Homo sapiens: one gene and its partner. The protein of the gene in region 1 purifies or fractionates together with the protein of each later gene. This does not show direct contact. Each region holds a gene or a part of one and is shown in the gene's direction. Other genes may lie near its edges.

The links. Proteins that work in one complex are often made in the same cells at the same time.
Region 2: the proteins of ZPBP2 (region 1) and FRAS1 purify together in Homo sapiens (affinity purification with mass spectrometry, with the first as the bait; one large-scale study listed by BioGRID). This does not show direct contact.

What each region holds. Positions count from the first base shown.
Region 1 is NC_000017.11:39,874,622-39,878,280, forward strand, and holds the end of ZPBP2 (zona pellucida-binding protein 2 isoform 2 precursor), read left to right. Parts: intron 1-632; coding exon 633-813; intron 814-2,060; coding exon 2,061-2,188; 3' UTR 2,189-3,275; downstream 3,276-3,659.
Region 2 is NC_000004.12:78,063,757-78,067,415, forward strand, and holds part of FRAS1 (extracellular matrix organizing protein FRAS1 isoform 1 precursor), read left to right. Parts: intron 1-2,228; coding exon 2,229-2,260; intron 2,261-3,659. UniProt on the Homo sapiens protein: Involved in extracellular matrix organization. Required for the regulation of epidermal-basement membrane adhesion responsible for proper organogenesis during embryonic development. Involved in brain organization and function.

The sequences.
Region 1 (3,659 bases):
GAGGTTTCACCATGTTGGCCAGGCTAGTCTCGAACTCGTGGCCTCAAGTGATCCGCCCACCTCTGCCTCCCAAAGTGCTGGGATCACAGGCGTGAGCCACCACGCCCAGCCTAATCTTAATTTTAATTTTTATTTATTTATTTTTTCTGAGACGGGGTCTCGCTCTGTCGCCAGGCTGGAGTGCAGTGGCACGATCTCGGCTCACTGCAACCTCCGCCTCCGAGGTTCAAGCAATTCTCCTGCCTCAGCCTCCTGAGTAGCTGAGACTACAGGCACATGCCACCACACCTAGCTAATTTTTGTATTTTTAATAGAGATGGAGTTTTACCATGTTGGCCAGGATGGTCTCGAACTCTTGACCTCGCGATCTGCCCGCCTTGGCCTCCCAAAGTGCTGGGTTTACAGGCATGAGCCACCGCTCCCAGCCAATTTTTCTTAACCATTGCACATATTAATTGACAACAGTTGATAAGGTCAAAGCTAACTAATTTTGGTGTTAACACACACCTTTTCAGGAATTTATCTACGTTAAGTATGGCATGCTTACAGTACATTATTGCCTGTGATACTGGAGGATAAATTTGGTTCATGGTTTAGTAATTGTACCTTTCTCTGGTATTTTTCAACCTTAGGCAAGAGATCGAATAGAAGACTTTTTTCGGAGCCAAGCATATATTTTCTACCATAACTTTAATAAAACTCTACCAGCAATGCATTTTGTGGACCACAGTTTGCAAGTAGTACGTCTGGATAGCTGTCGACCAGGCTTTGGAAAAAATGAACGTCTACACAGTAATTGCGCTAGCTGTTGTGGTAACTATAAAATATAAATATCTAAACATTTAGGTTATAGAGTCAGAAGAATATATAAGTAATTCACTTGGCATAACTGAATAGAATCTTTACAGTGATTCTCTTACCAAAAAATATATATATATTTAGCTAAAAGGAAGTAAAAATTCAAAGCCCCAATTTTTTTTTTTTTTGTTTTTTTTGAGATAGAGTCTCACTCTTTCACCCATGCTGGAGTGCAGTGGCGTCATCTGAGCTCACCACAACCTTCGTCTCCAGGGTTCAAGTGATTCTTCTGCCTCAGCCTCCCCAGTAGCTACCACAGCTGGCTAATTTTTGTAAAAAGTAGAGACAGAGTTTCACCATGTTGGCCAGGCTGGTCTCGACTGAACTCCTGACCTCAAAGGATCCGTCTGCCTTGGCTTCCGAAAGTGCTGGGATTATAGGTGTGGGCTACCATGCTTGGCCCCTTTTTTTTTTTTTTTTTTTTTTTTTTTTTTTGAGATGGAGTCTGGCTCTGTTACCCAGGCTGCAGTGCAGTGTGCAGTGTGGCGCAGTCTCAGCTTATGGCAACTCTGCCTCCCAAGCTCAAACCATCCTTCAACCTCAGCCTCCTGAGTAGCCAGGATTACAGGTGTGCAATCTGTAATTTTTGTATTTTTACTGACTAATTTTTGTATTTTTAGTAGAGACAGAGTTTCGCCCTGTTGCCCAGACTGGTCTTGGAATTCCTGGGCTCAAGCAATCTGCCCGCCTTGGCCTCCCAAAGTGCTGGGATTACAGGCATGAGCCACTGCGCCCAGCCAAAGCCCAAATTTCTAAATATAGTTATTTTAATGTATATTAACTCTTCCTGATGTACTCTCTTGTATTATAAACATTTCTATAATGTTCTGTCTTAAGCTACTGTACAATGAAGGAAAACAGAATGGTCCTACCTGGAAAGCAGAGAACTAGGAAATAGGAACTAGAAAACTAGAAATAGGAACTCATAAATGGGGCACTGCAGAAGATACTGTAAAATGCTGATAGTAAAAGAAAAAATAGGATTCTCACTTTCTCCTATCTTTAAGATCATCAAATTATAAAGTTTGAAACTCACATAATCTTCCACAACTTAAATGGGCTGAACATTACCTGGTATAATATAGGTACTGAAATGGTATGATATTAAAGGCAGATTTATATTGTTGGTATAGAATACCTCCAAGTAGTAGAGGCATAAAATATCTCTAAATTATAATTACTCCCTGTGTTTTCCTCTGCAGTGGTTTGTAGTCCTGCGACTTTTAGTCCTGATGTTAATGTAACTTGTCAGACCTGCGTTTCCGTCCTTACCTATGGAGCTAAATCTTGCCCACAAACTTCAAACAAAAATCAGCAATATGAAGATTAGAGGTGAAAGCATTGTTACTTACTTGTGGAAGTCGGGGACATAAGATGATTTTCACATCCCAGAGCATCATAGATAGTTCCATTAAGTAAAATCAGTAAGACCAAACCACTGGAAAACATGCATTTTGGAAACTTTAAAATAAATGGTTAACATGGCATTTCTAAGAAGGCATTTAATCCAGTATCTCTAGTGTACAAAGGAAACTTGAAGTTTTAATGGATTATTTTTAATGAAATGTTTTATTGTTTACAAACGGTATGTTGCTGTGTACCTAAGAGTATAGTAAGGTCAAGAAGAGTATCAAAGTATAATAAAATAAAAATTGTATACTCTCCATATATTTATTTGTTTGGAATCACTCTTGTGTGATATAAAGGCGTGTATATTATCTTTGTATTAGAACCAAAAAAGTTATTTATTTTGGTCCCTATGATTTTATTTTTTAAGATAAATTAATATACTGTATTTTTTAAAGTATAGGTTTAGGTTTACAGAATAATAGAGCAGATAATATATAGAGTTCCATACACCCACTGCACCCCATACCCTCATTCCTCCTTACACAATTTCTCCTATTATTAAGATGGTGCATTAGTGTGGCACATTTGTTACAAATGATGAACCAATATTAATTTATTATTAATTATAGCCCATAGTTCACATTAAGATTCATTGTGTTGTAAGGTTATGTGGGTTTTGACAAATTCATAATGGCATGTGTGCACCATTGCAGTCTCATACAGAATAGTTTCACCACCCTCAAAATCCTGTGCTTCACTTATTTATCCCTCCCGCCGTGCCCTGGCAACCACTGATCTTTTTACTGTCTCTACAGTTTTGCCTTTTCCAAAATGTCATGTAGTTGGTTGGAGTTATGCAGTATGTAGACTTTTTAGACTGGCTTCTTTCACTTAGCAATATGCATTTAAGGTTCCTCCATGTCTTTTTGTGACTTGATAGCTCATTTTTTATTGCTGAATAATGTTCATTGTATGGATATAGCATAGTATGTTTATCCATTCGCCCATTAAAGGAAATCTTGATTGCTTCCAGTTTTCAGTGATTAAAAATAAAGCCGCTATAAACATTTGTGTGCAGGTTTTTGTATGAACATAAGTTTTCAACCCAATTGTGTAAATAACCTAGGAATATGACTGCCGGAGTGTGACTATGTGTAGTTTTATGAGAAACTGCCATACTGTCTCCCAAAGTGGCTTACCGTTTTGCATTCACCAGAAATGAAAAAGTATTCCTGTTATCCTTATCTTTCCCAGCATTTGGTATTGTTAGTTTTTTTTTATTTTGACCATTCTAATAGGTGTATGGTGGTATTTTATTGTTTTAATTTGCAATTCCCTAATGGCATCTGATGTTGAACATCTTTTCATATGGTTATTTGCCATCTGTGTATCTTTTTGGTGAGGTGTCTGTTCATATCCTTTGCCCATTATTTAATTGGGTTCTTAATTCT
Region 2 (3,659 bases), on another chromosome or scaffold:
AAATTGACTTTGGAAGGTAATGCTGTGGAGAGCAATAAAATTATTTGAGGATAGTCTTATTTTAAAGATTAAATTTTGTTTGTGTTTTTTCTAAAAGTTAAGTTTTGTTTAATCTAAAGTTTAAATTTTGTTAAATTGTACCTAAGTGATGATGATCTTTATTCTAAATTTTCTAAACACCAGAAATAATTAAATATGTCCATATAAGTAATTTAGAAAGTGAATTGTGTTCATATGTATTTATTTGAGATATATAGAATTATTTTAGTACACACATCACACACATACATATGTACACATATATATATTTCCTTTCTTATAACATACCATAGACTGAACTACTAAGTCTTGGAACAAGATTTCTTAAGGAAAAAGTAGTCAATTAAGAAGAATTTTCCTTCAAGGTTTTATCTCAAGTTATTCTTATTAGAACTTAAAGAATAATAATAAAAATAAATAAATAAATAAAATAAAAAAATAGGGAGTGTCTATAAAATCATTCATTTATAGACACTCCCTATTCCTTTCTTTCATATGTATAGAAATAAATTCCTTTTTTCATATGTACAGAAATTTTAATAAATATTAATGCCATGGCTAGAAACTATTTTAAAGTAAAATAATAAGTTTGTGTAAAATATAAACTCAAAAATGACATATTTATATTAATTATCCTATGTCTGCAGAGGAAGAAATACAAACCATTAAAAGTTGGAAATGTCATTAGGAGAAAGGCACAAGGGTGTCATAAATTTATAATTTTTGCTTATACATATGCCTTGTACTTAGCTAATGTGATGCCTTCATATTCTGGGTGAATTATATTAAAACACCAATAAAATTGTTGTATACCAAGAAAAAAAAAAAGAATATCAGGGACATAAAAATTATTTCAATAAATTTGCCCACAGAGATCTTTGATTCAAACCTAAGTGTAAATAGTCATCTCAGTTTTTTTAAAGATTGTTCTTAATTCCATTACTGGAGGAGAAGGTAGACCAATTCTTTCCTGAGAAGTTAATATTATTGGGACTTCATAAATGATCCATTAGAGGTAAGCACTGTGGTAAAATAATGTCCTTCTCTCTTTAGAAACCAACTGTGTGGAGCATTGTTAAGATATGCTTCACCTTGGTGTGTATATACTGTTCAAATGTGTTTTGCAGACTCAGTTTCTGAGAGAGTAGGTGACAGCACACTGCCCATCTCTTTCTAAGTTAAATCAAGACCTGTTGTGCAGCTCAAAAATTGGTTGGGAATGTGTCTATATTTTTTTTAAGTTAAGATTTCAGTTTTATAGTGTATATATATATATATATATATATATACATACACACACACACACTAAATACTACATATGCTATTTATACTATATATTATATATATACTATATATAGTATATAGTGGGTATATATGTATATATATGTGTATATATGTGTATATACTATATATGTACTATATATGGTATATAGTATATAGTGGGTATACATGTGTATATATATGTATATACTATATATGTAATAGTATATATGTAATGGTATATATAGTGTATATATTCTCTCTATATGTAGTACACACACACATATATATAATGTAGTGGGGTAAATACAACATTTCAACATCCTTAGAAAGGAAATACACAAGAATAAATTCACAAATGGAGGATGTAGGCACAAAATGCTAGGAGCTCAGAGGAGCATAATCTGGTGGGCAGAAGTTTCACAAAGGAGATGGGATCAAGTTCAAAGAGCTTGACTAGACAAAGTACATCTCCTGTAGAAAATGAAAATGAGCAAAGGCATTGAGACATGTAAATATATTACAGGATTCTAAGTTGGCCTCTTGGGTTGGACTGGAGGCTTAGTGTAAGCAAACAGTGGCAGGGAAGCCTGGATAAGTAAATGGGACTGGATTATGGAGGCTTTGCTGACTTATCACCAAGAAAAATATTTACTGTATTTATAGCATGTCGTTATAAACACATTTATCTTAAAATTCAAGTCATAAGTTTTAATGATGCTTTTCCTCATGTGTGTCCAAGGAATGTTGTTTTGGTGTATGGGGTTATTTCCCCAGGGGAAGAATGCTGAAGCTTTTAAGATTTTGGAAGAAGCTCATTTTCCTGGTTATGATGCATATAGATGCAGTTTTAGCAGCAAGCTTGCTGGGGCAGTGCCTATTGGTTTATTATGCATCCCTTTTAATTCTTGTTTTGTTTTTCCCCACAGGTGCTTGTGTCTATCAGGATTCCTTGTTGGCGGTAGGTCATTCTTTACATACTTGGTTTCTGTCATTTGAATGTAAAATGCTTGATTGAAGTTCCTGAGTGAGTGAGTTGACCCTATCATTGTAGAATATGTTTATTTTTCTTCAACGTTTGACAATTAGCCCTCATTCGGGCACAATGATGCTCAATTATTTAATACCTTTTCCAGAGTGAATTAGTTCTATTCAGATACTCAGGTATTGGAAGAGAAATTCAAACACTCAACACACGATTTACATTCTGTGGCTGTTCTTTGTGTTCTTTTAATCAGAGAGAAAATTAGATCCCATCCTTTTGTCAGATACAAACTGAAACACAATTTTTTAACTTCTGGTTGCATTTGCTTCCCACTTTGAACCCTTCTCCAAAAAAAGTATGATTATTAAATTAAGTAGAATAGGAAGGATTTCTGTTGTTACTTTGAATTATAAACTTAAGTTTTGGTGAACAGCAAAGAAATTAACATTTATTTCTGAACTCTTGCCATATAGGGTAAAATTGATTTTGAATTTAATGTCAGAATGACTTGGGGGAAAGGCTGATGTAAGTCTCATGCATTTCTTTTCATTACTAATGCACTATGGTGCATAACAGTGTGTTAAAGCCTTATTGAAAAGACTGTCTACACTCCATCAACTCTAATAAATGGTGTGACAAATCATTCTTCACCATGTTTTTATTTTGGTTTAATAAATGCTATAATAAAACTGAACTGAGATGGTTGGAAAGAATTTGCTCATTTACATCACAACCTGCTATTGACATGTGTGATATTGATAAGTCATCCTGGATTATCCTTGTGGTATTGAAATAGCTGAGGAATATCTGAAGTATCTTAGAGTCTAGATAACTGTAGATATTCACCATAATATCCTTGAATCTGCACTTTATATACTGTAGTTACTGCTGGAGAAGTTTATTTTTTAAATATTTTTCTATCAAAAATTAGGAAAAAGCCATTTTTATTGTATTTGTCATTCCATATCCTGCCCTGTTTATTCTTTAATATATTTTAGGAATCATTTGCTCTAAAATATATTATCACTTTTGGGGAGCTACAGTAGATATTTAGACAAGTCAGTTATCCGTGCTAATAAAAGAGAATTATTTATTGTGTAGAGTACTTCATAACTTTTCCATATATTTTCATAAGTATTCATATGTCTGATACTTATAATAGACCAATGAAATAGGCAGGCCATGTATCATTCCATACTCTTTCCCCTTTTAATGGAAAAGATGAGAGAGAGAGATGAAGAGATTTGCTAGAGGTAATTCACCATTAGTGGTGGACCAGAACAAGACATCCTGTCTTCTTCTGTTGTTCTGCCTATATGTGAAAAAAAGTGGCTAGACCATCTTCTATATTTAACTTTGCTATGTGTTATTGTAC